Homo sapiens: one gene and its partners. The protein of the gene in region 4 interacts with the protein of the main gene of each other region in a pairwise test. Each region holds a gene or a part of one and is shown on either strand. Other genes may lie near its edges.

What was found. The genes of interacting proteins can lie anywhere in the genome.
Region 1: the proteins of PTN (region 4) and SPIN1 interact in a two-hybrid assay, tested with the Homo sapiens proteins (one large-scale study listed by IntAct).
Region 2: the proteins of PTN (region 4) and MKKS interact in a two-hybrid assay, tested with the Homo sapiens proteins (one large-scale study listed by BioGRID and IntAct).
Region 3: the proteins of PTN (region 4) and BTBD2 interact in a two-hybrid assay, tested with the Homo sapiens proteins (one large-scale study listed by BioGRID and IntAct).

What each region holds. Positions count from the first base shown.
Region 1 is NC_000009.12:88,390,822-88,395,688, forward strand, and holds part of SPIN1 (spindlin-1), read left to right. Parts: intron 1-4,867. UniProt on the Homo sapiens protein: Chromatin reader that specifically recognizes and binds histone H3 both trimethylated at 'Lys-4' and 'Lys-9' (H3K4me3K9me3) and is involved in piRNA-mediated retrotransposon silencing during spermatogenesis.
Region 2 is NC_000020.11:10,409,478-10,414,344, forward strand, and holds part of MKKS (molecular chaperone MKKS), read right to left. Parts: intron 4,455-4,867; 5' UTR 4,411-4,454; coding exon of another isoform or gene 4,258-4,410; 5' UTR 4,038-4,257; coding exon 3,053-4,037; intron 1-3,052. Other genes in the region: uncharacterized LOC128706666, read right to left, coding at 4,258-4,410. UniProt on the Homo sapiens protein: Probable molecular chaperone that assists the folding of proteins upon ATP hydrolysis. Plays a role in the assembly of BBSome, a complex involved in ciliogenesis regulating transports vesicles to the cilia.
Region 3 is NC_000019.10:2,008,470-2,013,336, forward strand, and holds part of BTBD2 (BTB/POZ domain-containing protein 2), read right to left. Parts: intron 1-4,867.
Region 4 is NC_000007.14:137,249,084-137,253,950, reverse strand, and holds part of PTN (pleiotrophin isoform 1 precursor), read left to right. Parts: intron 1-313; coding exon 314-487; intron 488-2,559; coding exon 2,560-2,721; intron 2,722-4,867.

The sequences.
Region 1 (4,867 bases), on a different chromosome or scaffold from region 4:
CTGATTCATCATGCAGCCTTTTTTTAAAAAAAGTTTTTTTTTAAAGCTACTCAAATATGTCAGTTTTATTTTCTCTGTACACACATTTGTTACTGAAAATTGCAAAAACAGCACATTGAAGGTCCTCTTATTGGAGTTCACATTTTTGAAAACCAGAAAATTTAATAATTATGCTCTTGCCAAACTACCCACTGTTTTCTTTATATTCTTGCCCCACAAGTTGCTTTACTTGAACTCTTGGGTTGGGCTTCATCTCACTGACTTCAGGCTTCTAACACACATAGGACACTTAGGACCTACTGGCTCTTTGGGTCACATCAGGGAGGAGAGCTGAAGTATGTTGAAGTTACTCAAATACATTCAAGCTACATAGATCTCTGATAAATTATTGGTGGTATGGTAGAAATGAAAATATACCCAAAAAAATCACAGAACTGTTTATTAAAATTATTGGTATACAGGCTCTTCTAACATAGATTAGCTTTCTCAACCTAATACATAAAATTACCAGCAAGAAAAAAAAAGTACAAGAATGACAGTTTATGGTTGAATTGGCTTGGTGTCATGATTCCCTGTTGTAGCATTCTCAGGCTATCTATGATAACAGAAACTGCAGCCACATTTGAATGGTTCCCTTCTTGATTCATTCTGAACTCTCCCTTTGGCCCAGTGTCTACTAGTTTTTCAAGCCAAGAACATCTGTTGAGTAACAGGTATCTCAATTTTGCCATACTTCCTTTCTGCATAGGTAGCAGCGTTCTTACTTCTACTCCTGAGGCAAGCCATCTCTGATGTCCTGGAAGGTCGTTTCTCTTCTATCCAGTTGTTGGGATGAATCTTCTGGTAGAAGGGAAGGGAATTTGGTACTAGGGTTGAAAGTCACGCTACTGAAGTTCTTTATTGACATCTCTGAGCAGAAGAGAGGCCCGAGTCGTCCTGGGGATTTTCTTCACTGAGCATTTGTGAAGATTCTGGGGTCAAGGTTGGGTTAAACTTTTGTGGTGGGTCCATCCGCGGTCTAGTCAACAGTACTAAGCTCTTCCTGCATCTTTGGGACCCAGCGGGAAGTGATGCCAGCTCTCAAATTGCTACAAGGTATCCTGGAAAGAAATCTATGACCCAGAAAGAGCCTGAAAACCCAAACTCCAGCAAATATTGGTGAAAGAGCCAACCCGCAAAGCCTTTTAAAACCTTGAATTCCTTACCTATAAACTGGGATAAAACCTATGGTGTAAGTCTGTTCTGAGAATTACATGAAATGGATTTATAGAGTTCTCAGTACAGTTCCTGAAATACAGCAGCTGACGCCAGTAGATGTTGATTTCCTTCTCCTTTCTACTTTTGAACTTAGCTGTAGTTATTAGCATTTTTTTAATGTTGAGGTAAACAGTTTCCTTAGTTGTGCATCAGTATTCAGTCCAATTTAATGTTAAATTATGTTTTTACTGGGAGCCTGTTCATGACCTTAAAATTGCCGTAAACCCTTTATAGAACAAGTCGTGTTTGGCTAAATATATAAACACAGATGTATCCTTACAGACTTTATAGTCTGATAGAGGAGATACACATGCATATAATGAGGGAATTCTGTGCTGAAGGTATCTGGGAAGAGAAGGTGATTCCATAGATTATCAGAATGGGAGAAGAAAGACATCTGGATGGAGGGGAAAGCAGGAACAGAGGCATGAGAGGAGTTAAAGAGGCCATCGGGGATTTCAATCCCAGCCAAAAGTTAGCCCCTTGTTACCTGTCTCCTCTCCTCTCCTCTCTTCTCCTTCCTTCCCTCCTTCCTTCCTTCTTTCCTTCCTTCCTTCCTTCCTCCCTCTTTTTCTACCTATCTACCTAGCTACTATTTTCTATCTATCCTCCTTTGTGAGTGTGTTTATGTATAGCAGGGGACGAGAACACCTACCTCATCAGGGGTGAGCTTAAATGAAGTAAAATGTTTCATAGGCTCCTGGTGTACAGTAAATGCCCAGTTGATATTGATGATGATGTCACCACTGCCTACACCACCTGTAGTTTCTTTCCTATGGCTGATCTGTCTAGGGATGAATTTGGGGGCCACCTTTTAAATTCTGCATGTAACATTAAGGTGGTTGGTGTTGAATTTGTAGGCAGAGGGAAACCATTGAAAGCAGGGGCAGGATTGGACCTGTGTTTTAGAACAGTATGAAAGGTGAGTTGGAGGAACCTGCCCATGTAGGATCTTTAATCTCCAGAGTCTAGCCTGTTAGAGAAGCTGGTGAAGTCATTTAAGGCATGGGGTATTGGTCTGAACTCAGAATATTTAATGTTATGTTAAATGTGCTTTTTTTTTTTTTTTTCCTGAAGGGAGGGGAGGAGGAAGAATTTACTCAATGTAAATATTATTTTATCCAAATGGTGAGAGAATACATGAAAAGACTAGTAAGGCATCTTTTTACCATTTGAGATGTTATAGTAGCGTGTTAACAAAATAGGCAATTTTTTTTTTAAAACTAGGTTATATTTCTTTGTAGTTGTTTATGCTTGGGCCTGTCTGCAAATGATTTAACAAATCATATCATATATTTGAATTACTGTTGCTTAACCTGACACAGGCAATAAGGAGAGAAAAGAATGTCCTTTTTCTTGCTTTTGGGTTTTTTTTTTTTTTTTTTTTTTTTTTTTGAGACGGAGTCTCCCTCTGTCACCAGGCTGGAGTGCAGTGGCGCAGTCTCAGCTGACTGCACCCTCCACCTCCCGGGAGTCAAGCGATTCTCCTGCCTCAGCCTCCCGAATAGCTGGGTCTACAGGCATGTGCCACCACACCTAGCTAATTTTTGTATTTTTAGTAGAGACGGGGGTTTCATCATGTTGGCCAGGATGGTCTCGATCTCTTGACATTGTGATCTGCCCGCCTCGGCCTCCCAGAGTGTTGGGATTACAGGCGTCAGCCATCTCTCCAGAGCTGATTTTTTTTGGAGGGAGGGGTTTGAATTACTTTTTTCTTTCTCTCTTTAGCATCATTGTAGACCCATGGATTTTTATGTATCCAATGTGTGTTTTTGGTTTTTTAAATTTTGAGACAGTCTTGCTCTGTCACCCAGGCTGGAGTGCAGTGGTGTGACCTTGGCTTACTACAACCTCCGCCTCCCGGGTTCAAGCTATTCTCCTGGCTCAGCCTCCCAAGCAGCTGGGATTACAGGCGTGCACCACCATGCCTGGCAAATTTTTTGTATTTTTAGTAGAGATGGGGTTTTACCTTGTTGGTCCAGCTGGTCTCAAACTCCCAAGCTCAAGTGATCCTCTCACCTCAGCCTCCCAAAGTGCTGGGATTACAGGTGTGAGCCACCATGTGTGGCTTTATCCAGTGTTTTAATCAAATACTCACTGTTTTTCCTTAGCTTTTCACAACTTGGACATGTTGAGGTCCTTTCAACCTGGTTCTCTTTCCTTTGACATGACACGTAATCTCTGAAGCTTTTCTTGCTTTCTGACACAAGATGTCTAAGGTTCACTTTGTGCTTTTCCTGCCAAATACCTATCAACCGAGTCTTTCAGCTTGCTTTATTGAGGATTAGAATTTAGATACAGAAATCTGGGTGTTATATGTTCTTACTGTTAGAATGCCCATGCTTTTATTGGACAGCCATGGGAAGCATACAGATTTTGATTTTTATATTGGTATTTCCAGTTCGAATTTAACATCACAGAGTTTTTACTATGAGCTTATCCTTTTTTCTCTAACGTTGAAAATTTACATTCTTAGCAACATTAATATAATTGCATTATCTTACAGTATAAATGTAGTTTGAAAATAACACTAATAAGCAACTGTAGCTTTATGTTTGGTTATGGTTTTTTCCTTAAAATATATCCACATAAGCATGTACAGTTGACATTCTAATTTGGAAGGCCATTTGAAAAGATTTTCTCTGATTATGTTATATGTTTGATAATTAATTTGGGTTGTTTGCCTGAAATTCTTCCTTTAAGAATTGCTTTAGTTTTTTATTTAATGTATTTTTTTTTTTTTTTTTTTGAGACAGAGTCTCGCTCTGTCGCCCAGGCTGGAGTCCAGTGGTGCGATCTCGGCTCACTGCAAGCTCCGCCTCCCGGGTTCACGCCATTCTCCTGCCTCAGCCTCCTGAGTAGCTGGGACTACAGGTGCCCGCCACCACGCCCGGCTAATTTTTGTATTTTTAGTAGAGACGGGGTTTCACTATGTTAGCCAAGATGGTCTCGATCTCCTGACCTCGTGATCTGTCCGCCTCGGCCTGCCAAAGTGCTGGGATTACAGGCGTGAGCCACCGCGCCTGGCCTATTTAATGTATTTTTTAACATGTAGAACATTTATGTGAACATTTATGTAGTTAAAAAATCTGATCTGTGTTAAAAAGTTATGTTCACAGCTTCACTTTAATTCTGTTCCTCCACGAATTTCTCTCTTGCCCCAGTTGTTTTTGCTTTGTTTTTCTGATATTTCATTTTTGCAAATGTAAGCATATGTGTATATTTTTGTTTCCCTTTCCTACACAATAGGCAGCGTTCTATGCACACTGCTCTGCCGTTCTATGCACACTGCTCCCTTTTACTTAATTTATTCTGGAGAGCGCTTCATTGAAGTGCGTGCTTGCAACTCATCTCCTAATGATGAACATTTGGGTTGTTTATATTCTCTTGGCTGTTATAAATATTGCGGCAATGAATAACCTTGTGGGTATATTGTTTTTTATTTGTGCAGATACAGCTTTAAGATAGATGTGGGGTGAAAGGTAAACACATTTGTAGTTTTGTTAGTGTCAAAATGTTACATTTTCTTTTTAAAACTTTTTAATTTTTTGTAGAGATGAGGTCTCACAGTGTTGCCCAGGATGATCTTGAACTCCTGACCCCAAGCAGT
Region 2 (4,867 bases), on a different chromosome or scaffold from region 4:
AGCGTGACTTGAATTTTCCAAATCTCCAAACGTAATGGAAGTTATGTAAGAAAAGAAACCTACATCAAACTCCTACAAGAAACAATACTAAAGTCTAAAGCTATAATTCTGAGCCATTCACCCCTTTCAGCTAGTTTCCTTTTCTTTCAGACTCACCTTTAAAAGATGGTTTCTTTCAAACTAATGGGGTTTAGTTTGAAAGTCTAAAATGTCGGCCGGGTGTAGTGGCTCATGCCTGTAATCCCAGCATTTTAGGAGGCTGAGGCGGGCATTGCCTAAGGTCAGGAGTTCGAGACCAGCCTGGCCAACATGGTGAAACCCCGTCTCTACTAAAAATACAAAAACTAGCCGGGCGTGGTGGCAGGTGCTTGTAATCCCAGCTGCTTGGGAGGCTGAGGCAGGAGAATCGCTTGAACCTGGGGGGCAGAGGTTGCAGTGAGCAGTGAGCTGAGATTGCGCCACTGCACTCTAGCCTGGGCAACAGAGCGAGACTTTGTCTCAAAAAAAAAAAAAAAAAAAAAAAAAAAAGCTAAAATGCCTAAAAACACTTCCATCTCAAAAAATTTATAGAATATAATCACTAAACAATTTCACTTATTTGAATATTGTTTACTTCTGAAATATTCAAGAATAATGAATACTTTAAAAAAGTGATCTAAGTAAAAAACCCAAAATCTTATAGTATAATTTCTTTCACATGGTGGGAACAACAGATTCTGCATGAGAAGGCCGGCTCTACTGCTTATCAGCCACTGGATGCTGTCACTCATGTCATTTAACTTTTCTGCCTCCCTCACATGAGAGGCAAGTGGGGATAATAATGCATACTTCACAAATAAATCAAACCAAGTCAAATGTTAAAAATGCTCCAGGCCGGGCGTGGTGGCTCATGCCTGTAATCCCAGTACTTTGGGAGGTTGAGATGGGTGGATCACCTGAGCTCAGGAGTTCAGGACCAGCCTGACCAATATGGTGAAACCTGTCTCTACTAAAAATACAAAAAACTAGCCAGGCGTGGTGGCGTGTGCCTGTAGTTCCAGCTACTAGGGAGGCTGAGACAGAATTGCTTGAACCCAGGAGGCAGAGGTTGCAGTGAGCCGAGATTGCGCCACTGCACTCCAGCCTGGGCGATAGAGTGAGACTCCACCTTAAAACAAACAAAAACCTCTGTAAGCTGCAATATGCTTCACATGTGGCACCCATCCACAGTAACACCCACTACACAACCTATATCATTAATAAACAGGAATTTTGTTTGAAGGCCTGAAATGAGGTAATGTTAACTTAGATTACCAGGGGAGATAGGTAAGGCCAAAAACATACTTCATCTACCTAAAAGTTTACCTGCGCTATGTGCCTGGTAGTTTTCCCCCTTTTCTTTTTTTCTCAAAAGCTCTCTGCTCCCAAGATCCAGGACTAAAGCTATGGCTATTAATGCCATGTTTAGGTATATATTATGGGCTAGTGTGGAAACCCAGCCCCCAGTTACAATATGGTTTCTACGGGAAAATGTTTGGTTTTTTTTTTTTTGATAGGGAATCTTGCTGTCACCAGGCTGGAGTGCAGTGGCGCAATCTCGGTTCACTGCAACCTCCACCTCCTGGGTTCAAGCAATTCTCCTGTCTCAGCCTCCCAAGTAGCTGGGATTACAAGTGCGGCCACCATGCCCAGCTAATTTTTTTGTATTTTTAGTAGAGATGGGGTTTCACCATGTTGGCCAGGATGGTCTCGATCTCCTGACCTTGTGATCCGCTCACCTTGGCCTCCCAAAGTGCTGGGATTACAGGCATGAGCCACCGCCCAGCCCTTTCTGTTTTTTTAGATGTAGTCCTGCTTTGTTGCCCAGGCTGGACTTGAACTCCTTGGCTCAAGTAATCCTCCTGCCTCAACTTCCCAGGTAGCTGGGACTACAGGCATGTACCACACCCAGCTAAAGTGTCCCATATTTTAAAAATGAGTCTGGAAGACCCAGTATTCACAAACTGGAAATTGCCAGATTCATGCAAAGCTAGTAGATATTTAAGGCTATCAGTCTGACTTACCATACCAACAACGAGTTCCAAGGAATTATTTCCATTATTAAGAAACTCTACTTTTGACAGTCATTTGAGTCTTACCAAGGTAGGGCAATAACCCAGAGATATTATGTATTCAACACTTGGCATACATATGGCTCCTTTTTGATAATTTATACTAAGACTTTTATTAAATAAACTTTAACAATGGTTTAAGTCTAGTAACTTAAAAATTGGAAACAATGCAGACTAAATGATCATCTTTCTGATAGATTGTCAAAGCAGTTAAAGGATACTGAAAAGTAGCTCACATCAGGAACTCTTCAGCTTGTCATTTTTCTTTGGCTCTAACAGTACTTATATCTGCTTTTAATTTGCTGAGTTTGTAAAATACAGTGAATTTTTTGCCTATTTTAGTTCTGTATATTACCAAATATATTTCGGTCAATTCAACAAACACTTTAGAACACCCACAGTGGGCCAGGCCTGTAATAGGTGCTGAAAGTAAAAGATGATCTTGGTTCTCAAGGTCAGGTGGGAACAGTTTTGATATAGGTAAAACATAGGTGCATGTACATCCCCCTCCCATTAGAAACAACTACTTAAGGAGAAGTACAGAAGTTTGCTGGAATTATGACAAAGTGAAGAAAAAGGGTCATTCTAGTTACAAAATTACTTTCTAAATATAACATGATTTAAAAGTTTTGTCAATTGAGGCTGAAGAATTTTGTGTAAAGTATGAAAGACCTTAGGATTATGGGGATGTTAGACTTCTCAATAACCTGTAAAATATTTGGGGGTTAGATGATATAGTACATTAGGGGGCTGAAAATACATAGAAAATGGCTATAATCACTGCATTTTTAGTATGTGAACAATACAGGATCTTTTCCAGAAACCTTTGCTGCCAGAAATGATACTGACACATGCTGGGTCAATTTTTCAAGATGTTAACAGTGACACAAACCAAAAATATCTCTGCTCAAAAAAGTGTGATTTATTAACTGTAAGAGGCAAAAGCAAAGAGTGATTTTTACCTGTCATTTTAGTCAGGGGTTCCATCAGAGTCACTCCAATTCTGTCTATGGCAATAATACGATGCATATTGAGAAACTGCTTCAAAGATGGATGTATAACTTTTTGGCACAGGACAAGATCTACGTGGTCACTGATTAGCTGCCTTCCTAGGTTAAGCAGCTGGTCCAAGACTGCATTTTCAAGAGAAACCCCATAACTGACCACCACAGTTCCTTCTCCAGTGTCAGAAGTGTCTCCGGATAAAGTTGTACAAAAGAGTGCCACCTTGAGGGCAGTTGATTTTTTGATAGGTAATAGCCTCATTAATTGAACTTCTGACATTTCAATGAGTATCCCAGGTAATACAGTGGAATCTATAACTCTTTGACCTTTTAAAGGTACAATTAAACTCTTTCCTAAAATGATGTGGCCTTCAGCATTTTCTGGAATTGTAAGCAAAAAGGCTCTCAGGATCAAAGCACTGACATGCTCTGTTTCCTTTCTGGTGAGCATACAGGCAGGTTTACTTGTTAATATACTACGCACCAAACAAAGGAGGATCTGAGTACTACTAAAGTCCACTGGGATTCGACAACCACAGGTCTCAGACTTGAGATAACTGATGCAAAGACTCAAAAGATGTTTATTTAATCTAATGACAGTGGTGGGTGTCAAGCCTAATCTCTGAACATTTTCAATCAGGTTGCAGCAAAGAATAGCTGTGAATAAGCCACAATCACTGAAGCTTGACACATGATTCTGTATGGAGGCTGTCAGGATCTTTAAAATGGGATGTGTGACCAAAAGGTGACTGAGCAGAGCTGAGGACTGTGAGGTTGTACACACGTAACCTCCAAAGCCATTGTGCAGCTGCTTCAGCCTACCTGAGGGGCCATAGCATGATGTTACAATTCTTTTCAAGACAGAAAGTGTGGTCCTGACTCTCTCAGTTGTCAGTGGTTCACTCTTACACAATGATGGCTTCTTAGCTTCCAAACGAGACATCTTACTTCAGGTGGTAACTAGTGAAGACCGTTTTTATTTTGTAAACCACATTTTTCTATTTATTGCATTATCACGTTTTAACATTAAAAATTATTCTTTAGGAATTAAAGTATGAATATGCAGCATTGTGGCTATAAAATCAAAAAGTTCAATGTTTATGAAGCTAATCAGCATAGAATGATTTAATGACAAATTAGTAATTCCAAATATTTATTTTACTTCACTCTTCAATACTCTTTTGTTTGCTTTGAGACTGAAATTTTACAGACTGCTTTGCAGACCTCTGCAAAAAGTATGTTCCAAGATGGACACCTATGAAAGATATCCCAGCTACAAGAAGCCAGTTCTTTCTAATCCAACTGGTATTTTTCATCTCTTCTTTCGATATGAAGCTCAGATTCAAAGCTGCTTCTTTACCTAATAAATAATAAAAAAAACATTTTAGAGAAATACTTCCCAAGCAGTTTGTAGACTGCAGTTTAATAATTTATTCTAATGCTCTGCTGCCTTTTTAGAAAAAGGAACTACTAACTGGCACAAACGTCCAGAAAATGAGAAAGGTAGACCAACTTTGACTTAAAATTCCTTTATTCTTCAATAAATCCCCTCTACAAGAAAAAGTGCTTGTATTTCAGTGATTCTGTAAGGCACAACAACATGGCTAGAAAGCTTACAGCACAGTTATTTGAATATGGCATGCTTCTAGGAGAGAAATGCTACGATATAAAACAGAGAATTAGGTCTCTGAGTCTTTTTTTTTTTTTTTTTGAGATGGAGTTTCGCTCTTGTTGCCCAGGCTGGAGTGCAATGGCGTGATCTTGGCTCACCAC
Region 3 (4,867 bases), on a different chromosome or scaffold from region 4:
TAATACAGACAGAGTTTCACTATGTTGGCCAAGTTGATCTCGAACTCCTGACCTCAGGTGATCTGCCCGCCTTGGCCTCCCAAAATGCTGGGATTACAGGCGTGAGCCACTGTGCCCAGCTTTTTTTTTTTTTTTTTTTAGGGACAGAGTCTCACTCTATCGCCCAGGATGGAGTGCAGTGGTAGGATCATGGCTCACTGCAGCGGCAACCTCCCAGGCTCAGGTGATCCTCCTACCCGAGCCTCCTGAGTAGCAGGGACCACAGGCACACACCACCATGTCCAAGTAATGAGGTCTCGCTATATTGGCCAGACTGGTCTCGAACTCCTGGGGTCAAGTGATCCTCCCACCTCAGCCTCCCAAAGTGCTGGGATTACAGATGTGAGCCACTGCACTCAGCCTGAAAAGTCTTCACAAAGAATAAAGTTGGGAAGAATTTGGTGAGCAGTTCTCAAAACATACCACAAAGCAGCAATCATCAAACAATGTGTTATGGGAACAAGGACTCACAAAGCAGTCAATGAAATGTGAGACCCCAGAACACACTGTTCTTTTTTTTTTTTTTCCAAGACAGAGTCTCGCTTTGTCACCCAGGCTGAAGTGCAGTGGCACAATCCTGGCTCACTGCAACCTCCGCCTCCCAGGTTCAAACGATTATCCTGCCTCAGCCTCCCCAGTAGCTGGGGTTACAGGCGCTCGCCACCACGCCCGGCTAATTTTTGTGGTTTTTCTTTTTTCTTCTTTTTTGAGGCGGAGTCTCAGTCTGTCACCCAGGTTGGAGTGTGGTGGCGTGATCTTGGCTCACTGCAACCTCCGCCTCCCGGGTTCAAGCAATTCTCCTGCCTCAGCCTCCCAAGTAGCTGGGATTACAGGTGCCCACCGCCACACCAGGCTAATTTTTTGTATTTTTAGTAGAGACGGGGTTTCACCATGTTGTCCAGGCTGGTCTCAAATTCCTGACCTCGTGATCCGCCTGACTCGGCCTCCCAAAGTGCTGGGATTACAGGCGTGAGCCACCACACCCACCCAGATTGTTCTACTTCTAGACCTCGCTACAATGCTGACAGTTCCATGATAGAGTGAATAAAGATACGTTAGGCTGGGCGCGGTGGCTCACACCTGGAATCCCAGCACTTTGGGAGGCCGAGGTGGGTGGATCACCTGAGCTCAGGAGTTCACCATCACCCTGGGCAACATGACGGAAATACTGTCTCTACTAAAAATACAAAAATTAGCTGGGCGTGGTGGCGCACACCTGTAATCCCAGCTACTCAGAAGGCTGAGACAGGAGAATTGCTTGAGCCAGGGAGCTGAAGGCTGCAGCATGCGGAGATCACGCCACTGTACCCCAGCCTGGGCAATAGAGCAAGATTCTGTCTCAAAAAAACAAAAAAGGAGGGGAGGCCAGGTGCGGTGGCTCACGCCTGTAATCCCAGCACTTTGGGAGGCCGAGGTGGGCGGATCACCTGAGGTCGGGAGTTTGAGACTAGCCCGGCTAACATGGTGAAACCCCGTCTCTACTAAAAAATACAATTAGCCAAGTGTGGTGGCGGGTGCCTGTAGTCCCAGCTACTCGGGAGGCTGAGGCAGGAGAATGGCATGAACCTGGGAGGCGGAGCTTGCAGTGAGCGGAGATCGCGCCACTGGACTCCAGCCTGGGCAACAGAGCGAGACTCCGTCTCAAAAAAAAGAAAAAGGTATTTTAGATACTAACTTCATGGGACCAGCCAATGTGCACATCTACAAAAGTGCAACCCTGGAGATCTTCAGTTCTCCCTTCAAGCCCCATGAGAGAATCAGATGTTTAATTCCCACAGATCATTCAATGCACAATCACTGCGTGCCTACTGTGTGCCAGGCTCCAGCGCGCTGAGATGGACGGGTGCCCATCCAGGACCGGGGAACAGCCCAGAAGCCGCGTGCAACCCCTGGCCTCCTCCCCAGCACAAACGCCGACCCCTGCGCGACGGTCCAGACACTGGGGCCACCACCAAGGCCTGCTCCCAGCCTCCTCTCTGCCATGTCTCAGCTCACCCTGCACCCCCGCCAGGGACCAGGCCCAAGCCCAGGCCACTTGCTCTCCTCACAGCTGGCAAGGCCCGGCCCCTCTCTGCTCATCGGTGAACTCCAGACTTTATCCCAGCACCCCCAGTTCGTCCCGACATCCCCCCACCTTTTTTTTTTTTTTGAGACGGAGTCTCGCCCTGTCACCCAGGCTGGAGTGCAGTGGCGCAATCTTGGCTCACTGCAATTTCTGCCTTCCGGATTCAAGCCATCCTCCTGCCTCAGACTCTGAGTAGCTGGGATTACAGGTGCGTGCCACCGCGCCCAGCTTATTTGTGTATTTTTAGTAGAGACGGGGTTTTGCCACGATGGCCAGGCTGGTCTCAAACCCCTGACCTCAGATGTCTGCCCATCTCGGCCTCCCGAAGTGCTGGGATGATAGGCGTGAGCCACTGCGCCCGGCCTCAGCTGCTGTTTTCTTTCTCTCTGCTGTGTGGCCTGTGGCTGTCAGCAACCCATCGGGTCCGTTTGTTCCCACAGCCCCAGGACAGATGTGTCTGAGTGACCTTGTTTCAATCATGGAAACTGAGGCACAGAGCACTTGGGACACACTGCTCTGCGGACCTCTCAGCCCCAGGTCCCGCCAACACATCCAAGCCAGTACTTGTCCCTCCTGAGCCTGTCCTGGCTTGTGATGCTCCAGCCAGAAGTCTGGGGACCCCCACCACAGCCCCCCACGCCCTCACCTGCCAAGCTGCCTCCTCTCCTGGCCACAGGAACTCGCTTCCTCCAAAGAGGACCTGCATCCTCTACCCCTCATTTCTGCCGTCCCCACCGAGCCCGCTGCTGTCTCCTGCCTGGAGTCTGCAGCTGCTACTCCCCAGCCTCGCTCCTGGGCCCATCCACGGCGCGTTCCACCCTCAATGCGGATCTGGTCACACTGGGCCACAGGGCCTCCCTCACTCCTCCTGCTCCGGCCTTGCCATGGCTCCCACCTGCCCAGCCCCTCTGGGCTCTGGGCCTTCCATCCCTGAGCCTGGGGCACTGCACTCTCCATCAACATCACTTGCTCAGGGGGTCGTTCTGGACCAGGTCAGTGCCCCCTCTCCATTTTCAACCCTCCTGAAATGCTAAGGAAACACAGATGACCTTTCAACAAGGCAGGCTTCAACTGCACAGGTCCACTCATATGTGAATTTTTTCAATAAAGGCTGCCCCAACGGTGCCGGCCTCTCCTGCCTCCCCTTCCACCTCTGCCACCCCGGAGACAGACCCACCCTCCTGCTCCTGCTCCTCAGCCCTCAATATGAACACAAGGACACAGGCCTTCATCGTGGCCACCTCCACTGTGTGAACAGCAAACAGGATTTCTCCTTTTATTTTTTTTCCTTTTTTTTTTGAGACAGAGTCTTGCTCTGTCGCCCAGGCTGGAGTGCAGTAGCGCAACCTCGGCTCACTGCAACCTCCGCCTCCCGGGTTCAAGTGATTCTCCTGCCTCAGCCTCCCAAGTAGCTGGGACTACAGTTGTGCACCACCACACCCGGCTAATTTTTTGTATTTTTAGTAGAGACGGTGTTTCACCACGTTGGCCAGGATGGTCTCAAACTCCTGACCTCATGATTCGCCCGCCTCGGCCTCCCAAAGTGCTGGGATTACAGGCGTGAGCCACCGCGCCCAGCCTGTCCTTTATTTTTTTTGAGATGGTGTGTCACTGTGTCGCCTGGGCTGGAGTGCAATGGCGCAATCTCGGTTCCCTGCAACCTCCACCTCCTGGGTTCACGAGATTCTCCTGCCTCAGCCTCCTGAGTAGCTGGGATTACAGGTGTGCGCCACCACGCCCGGCTAATTTTTGTATTTTTGTAGAGACAGGGTTTCACCGTGTTGACCAGGCTGGTCTCGATCTCCCGACCTCGTGATCTGCCCGCCTCGGCCTCCCAAAGTGCTGGGATTCCAGGCGTGCGCCCCCGCACCCGGCCCCTTAGACTTTTCTGAATGTATTTTCTGTTCTCCAGCCTGTTATTGTGAGAACAGGAGGCTGGTGTGCATTGACCAAGTGTCCTCACAAGGCCTCCGGTCAGCGAGAAGCCATTCCTAGTTAAGTTCGTGGGAGTCAAAAGTTGTACTTGGATTTGAGCTGAGTGGGGGTCCACGCCCCTAACCCCGCATGTCGAGGGTCCGCTGTCCCAGGCCCGCCCACCTTACCTTGCTGCTATCTCCCGCTGGGCCTCATTGCCCTCTCCTGAGCCCCCCGGGGGCAGACCCCTCACCTACTTTTCTCCAAGGGGTCCTTGTCCTGCCTCCATCTTCCCCACTTTGCAACCGAGCCAGCGGTCCCTCAAGTGCAATCGCATACATGTCCCAAGGTCAGCCGGTGCCCGGGGCGCCCCACCTCCCCCCTCAAACAGAAAGCCTGGGATTCTCCAGCTGCACCTGCTGCTGGGTGAGTTCCAGCTGCATCCAACCTACCCCCTCCCCAAAGAGCACAAAGACCACCCAGGTGGAGGGAGCAAACCCACCGCCCCTCACTCCAAGCTAGGAGAGGCCCAGCAGCTAAGGACGACAGAGACAGGGACGGCGACACGGACGGCACAAGCCGTAGGAGGCCCCGGAACCCTCCAGGGGCAGGAACCTCTGCTAAGTACCGCCCAGGGCAGGACCCCACGAAAGGAGACCCAGCTGCCCATAAACACCCAGGAAGAAGCCAGAACACGTTAACAAAAGCACCCGAAGGTCAGAAGGGAGGGCAGGACCCTCCCCCTCCAGTGCCCGCAGCAAGAAAACCCAGCCCCTGCCCCCGACCAATGAGGGGCAGGGTAAGAGGGACCGGGGAGTGGAGGGAACCTGGGGCCTGGGGCCGGTACCC
Region 4 (4,867 bases):
CTTTTATAGAAATGTTTGCTTCTAAAAGGAGATGCCACTAAATCACTTAGCACAGTCTCTGGCACATAGTAAGAGGGAGTTCAATTAATATTAGTTTTAGCTCTTTTCTCAGTTTTCTTTCTCTCTTCTCTTGATCATTCATTGGTTCAATAATTTGGTTAATATTCATCATGTTTCTACTATTCATTAGACAATAAGGATACAGATTAAAAAACACAGATCCTGCAATTAAGGTGCTCAGGAATGAACTTGGTTATATCTGGAAGTTAAGGAGTTTTCTGTATGTTGATTAGGTTTTCCTCCTTTCATTCAGAAAAAAAAGTGAAGAAGTCTGACTGTGGAGAATGGCAGTGGAGTGTGTGTGTGCCCACCAGTGGAGACTGTGGGCTGGGCACACGGGAGGGCACTCGGACTGGAGCTGAGTGCAAGCAAACCATGAAGACCCAGAGATGTAAGATCCCCTGCAACTGGAAGAAGCAATTTGGCGGTAAGCCTCATGCTACTGAGTTAATCTCCTACTCTGAGATAATTCTCAAATTTTTCCACCAAATGTCTTTTTAAGGATAAGTACTTTTTATTTTAAATAACTTTATCTTACCAGACACAAAGTGACCAGACTGGTCCCATTTCAGGCCAGGCAATTATTTGTTGTGGAGGCTGTCTTGTGCATTTTAGGGTATTTAGGAGCATCGCTGGCTTCTACTCGCTAGTTTCCGGTAGCATTCCTCACCCGCTCCAGATGTGAAAACTAAAAATGTCTCCAAATATCTATGGCCAAATGTACCCTGTTGGTCAAAATCATCCCTGGTTGGGAACCACTGCCTTTCCAAAGGGACATAAAATATATCCTTGATTCCTCTGAATAATGTTAATTGATCTGTCTTCTCTCTCCTTTCTTCTATTTCTAAGTTCCTTTGATTTTTCCTTTCCCCTTTTCTTATTTATTCTCCTGCTTCTCCATGTTTCTCCCTGTCACTTTCAGACCTTCTCTCCCATTTGATCCCTCCCCAACCTCCACACAGTTTCACAGATTCACTTACTGAGTTCAGCAGGGCTGCTCACAGCCACGTTTCATAAATCTTTCTCCCACTGACTGGAGTCAGTCTTATGCTGGCCTGATCTATCTATCTGAGACAGGATCTCTCAACACTTTCAACTTTATATCCAGTATTGAACCCTCAAATAACCTCTTCCACAATCCAGACTTTTTGTCTTTCTTAGCCATAGTGGGACATGATGCCTGAAATGTCCTATCTGTGTTCTATGGAAATGCATTGTGGCCCATAGACAAGTGAGGAAGGATAATGGATGTATACATGTATGTCTTTTTCTCCCTCTGTAATCTTTGGGGTATTTTTTATTTGAATGGATATAGACAAGTTCTATAAAAGTGTGATGGAGAACAGGTACATTTGGTCTTAAATTGTATATGGGCACCTTAAAAACCCACTTACAAAAAGTTTAAAAGGTATATCTTAAAGACTTACATTGAGAATATTAAATAACTCTCAAACTCAACAGTAAACAACAAAACAACAACAACAAAAAACAAAACAAACAAAACCTAACAGTTCAATAAGAAAGTGGGGAAAAAACATTAACAGACATTTTACCAAAGAGGATATATAGGCAACAAATGAACTCCTGAAAATATATTCAGCATCTTTTCCTTATTAGGGAACTAGAAATTGAAACCATAATGAGATATCACTCTACATCTATCAAAGTGGCTAGAATAAAAAATAGTGACAAGACGAAATGCTAGTGAGGGTGCCAAGAAACCAGATCCCTCATATGTTGCCAGTGGAAATTGTAAGGTGGTACAGCCACAGTGGAAAAAGAGTATTGCAGTTTTTTACGAAATGAAACATGCATTTACCATGTAACACAGCAGTTTCTTGGTAATTTATCTCAGAGAAATGAAAACTGATGTTTCCACAAAAACCTATACATGAATTTATATAGCAGTTCTATTTGTAGTAACCCAAGGCTGGTAACAACTCGGATGTCCTTCAGCTGATGAATGGTTAAACAAACTGGGGTACATTGGGACCATGGAATACTACTCAGCAATAGGAAGAAACAGACTATTGATGCACATGACTTGGATGGATCTTCAGGAAATTATGCTAAATAAAAAAGCCAATCTCAGAAGTTTACATATTGTAGAATTCCATTTATGCAACATTTTTAAGCTAGAAAAATGATAGAGCTAGAGAACAGATAAGGAGTTGCCGGGGATTAAGGAGGTGGGGAAGGAGGAAGGTGGCTAGGCCATGACTATAAAGAATGACCCACTGTTGTATTGGGACTGTATATTAATAGTGTATATTAGTGTGTATTAATGGTGTATATTGATGGTGATCGTATGCATCTACACATGTGATAGAATTGAACAGAAATCAATACACACGCATACACTCTGTATTATTTCTTATAGCTGCATATGGATCTATAATTATTTCAATAAAAAAGTTACAAACAAAAGTGTGCCTTTATTATCCTGGAAGTACGATAGGATCTTTCAAGGATTTCTGTTTGGTTCTACCCTGCCTTTAGCGGAGTGCAAATACCAGTTCCAGGCCTGGGGAGAATGTGACCTGAACACAGCCCTGAAGACCAGAACTGGAAGTCTGAAGCGAGCCCTGCACAATGCCGAATGCCAGAAGACTGTCACCATCTCCAAGCCCTGTGGCAAACTGACCAAGCCCAAACCTCAAGGTAAGTCCTTGCCATTATACCACAATTTTAATGGATTGATGGACTCAGGTAAGATCTGGAAAACCCACATTTTCCAGAAGGAAATATTAGGTGAATTACCTTAAGAAAGTGACTGAAAAACTCCCCTACACTGAGAGTCACAAAAATACTTTAAAAATACTTTGAAGCAGGCAGCCTGTGAGTGCAAATTGAAGTCCTCTGCATAGATGAGGGGATTGGTACAGTCTCCTAACCCAAATAAATAACATAGCAAAAGAAACCAGCAAAGACAGTTGTATGATGACCATATATTCCACACTCTTAATTGGAACTGTATCCTGACAAGAAAAACAAACTCAGAATGTTTATGACGGAGACAATTTTAAATCAAACTTCTCCCAGATTATCTGAAATATAGTTTTCACAAAATCAGGAAAATTATTTTACATTTTCCCTTTATTCACTGCATAACTTAATGGGTTCTGCATTTGTTTTCAGAGCCTTTATATTTTTTGAGTTCAATTTGGTTACCAACTACATTCATCACAGAATTTTTAAATGACAGAGATCTGTATCTCCCAGAAAGTCAGGCTCTGCTCTCTTGCTGGAGAAGGTAAAAACAATCATTATGGCCATGAATTCATACATACAAGGATCCCAACTGAGGGAAATAAACTCTTTCATCATGGATGTTATTGTCTGAATTGTGTTTTCCCAAATTCATATGCTGAAGTTTTAACCCCCTCACAATGTCACTGTATTGGAGACAGGGTCTTTAAAGAGGTAATTGAGATAAAATGCAGTCACAAGGGTAGGCCCTAATCCAGTGCAGCTGGTGTGTTTATAAGAAGGGAGATTAGGACACAGAAATACATAGAGAGAAGACTGTGTGAAGACAGAGGGAGAAGAATGCCATCTACAAGCCATAGGGAGAACCTTCAGAAGAAATCAGCCCTACAGATGCCTTGATCTTAGGCTTGTAGCTTCCAGAACTGCAAGACAATAAATAAATAAATTTCTGTTGTTTAAGCCACCAACTCTGTGGTACTTTGTTATAGGAGCTATAGCCAACTAATACAATGGGACTCAATGAACTCTAAATTCAAATACCTTCTTGGCCTCTACTCATATATTTTAACTCTAAGGTGGTCCTGAAAATTCATACTGCCAGAGAAATTGTAAGGAGAGATTCAGAAAAATGACCATGTAAGAAATGCTCATAATAAATAAAAGTAGAAAAAAAAAATCTGCAGAAGGTGATGGAGATTGGCTGGTTTCCTGCTGGTGGCCAGAAAGGACTTTATTTTTCACAGGCCTGGCTTTTTGGCCACTGCTGGAGTTGTCCATAGAAATAGTTATCTCCAACTTCAGGATGGCCAGGTACAGGCTGGACCTGCAGGTGGTGAGTCTAGGGTTCAGGCTGCCCTTTCCAGATCATGGAAATCTCTGCCTGTTGTCATATGGTTTTTGGAAGGCATGAAGCAGGGCTGGAGTGACTGCAGTGAGTACTTATGCAGACTTCCCAAATGTCATTTGTCCAGAGACAACCACATAAATCTAAGCAAAATCAGTGCCCTATCTACCAAGTGAAACATTTCCAAAAATGGCAAAACTCAGAGTTACTGTAGTCAAAATAATTTATTTTTAGTCCAGCTGTAGAACCAAAATATTCAGCATAAATACAGAATTGAAAGGAAAAGAAATTAAAGAAGCTTCCACATTCTAGCACAGTGATGCTCAACCTGGGCTTCACATTAGAATATTCTGTGGGAACTTGCAAAACTCCCAGTGCCCAAGTATAGCACAGACTAACCCAATCAGCATCAGTAGTTTAAAAATTGTGAATGCATCTCAGAAGGTTTCATGATGCAGCCAAAATTGAGAACTACTGCTCTAGTATGGAATCCATTGACAAGAGACCACACACACATGCATACACATGTAACACACACACACACACACACACACACACACACACGTGCACTGTCCTGTTCTTTCCTATGGGAAAGAGAAAATTCAACTTTATAATAAGGGAGAAAAAGTGGGGACATGATTAGGTGGAAGATGGTGGGGCTGGGTGAACACATAAAATGTTGAAAAGTTTGGAATAAATGGGACACAGCAGGGAACATGATTAAGATAGAACCCTAAACGATATTTAGGAAAT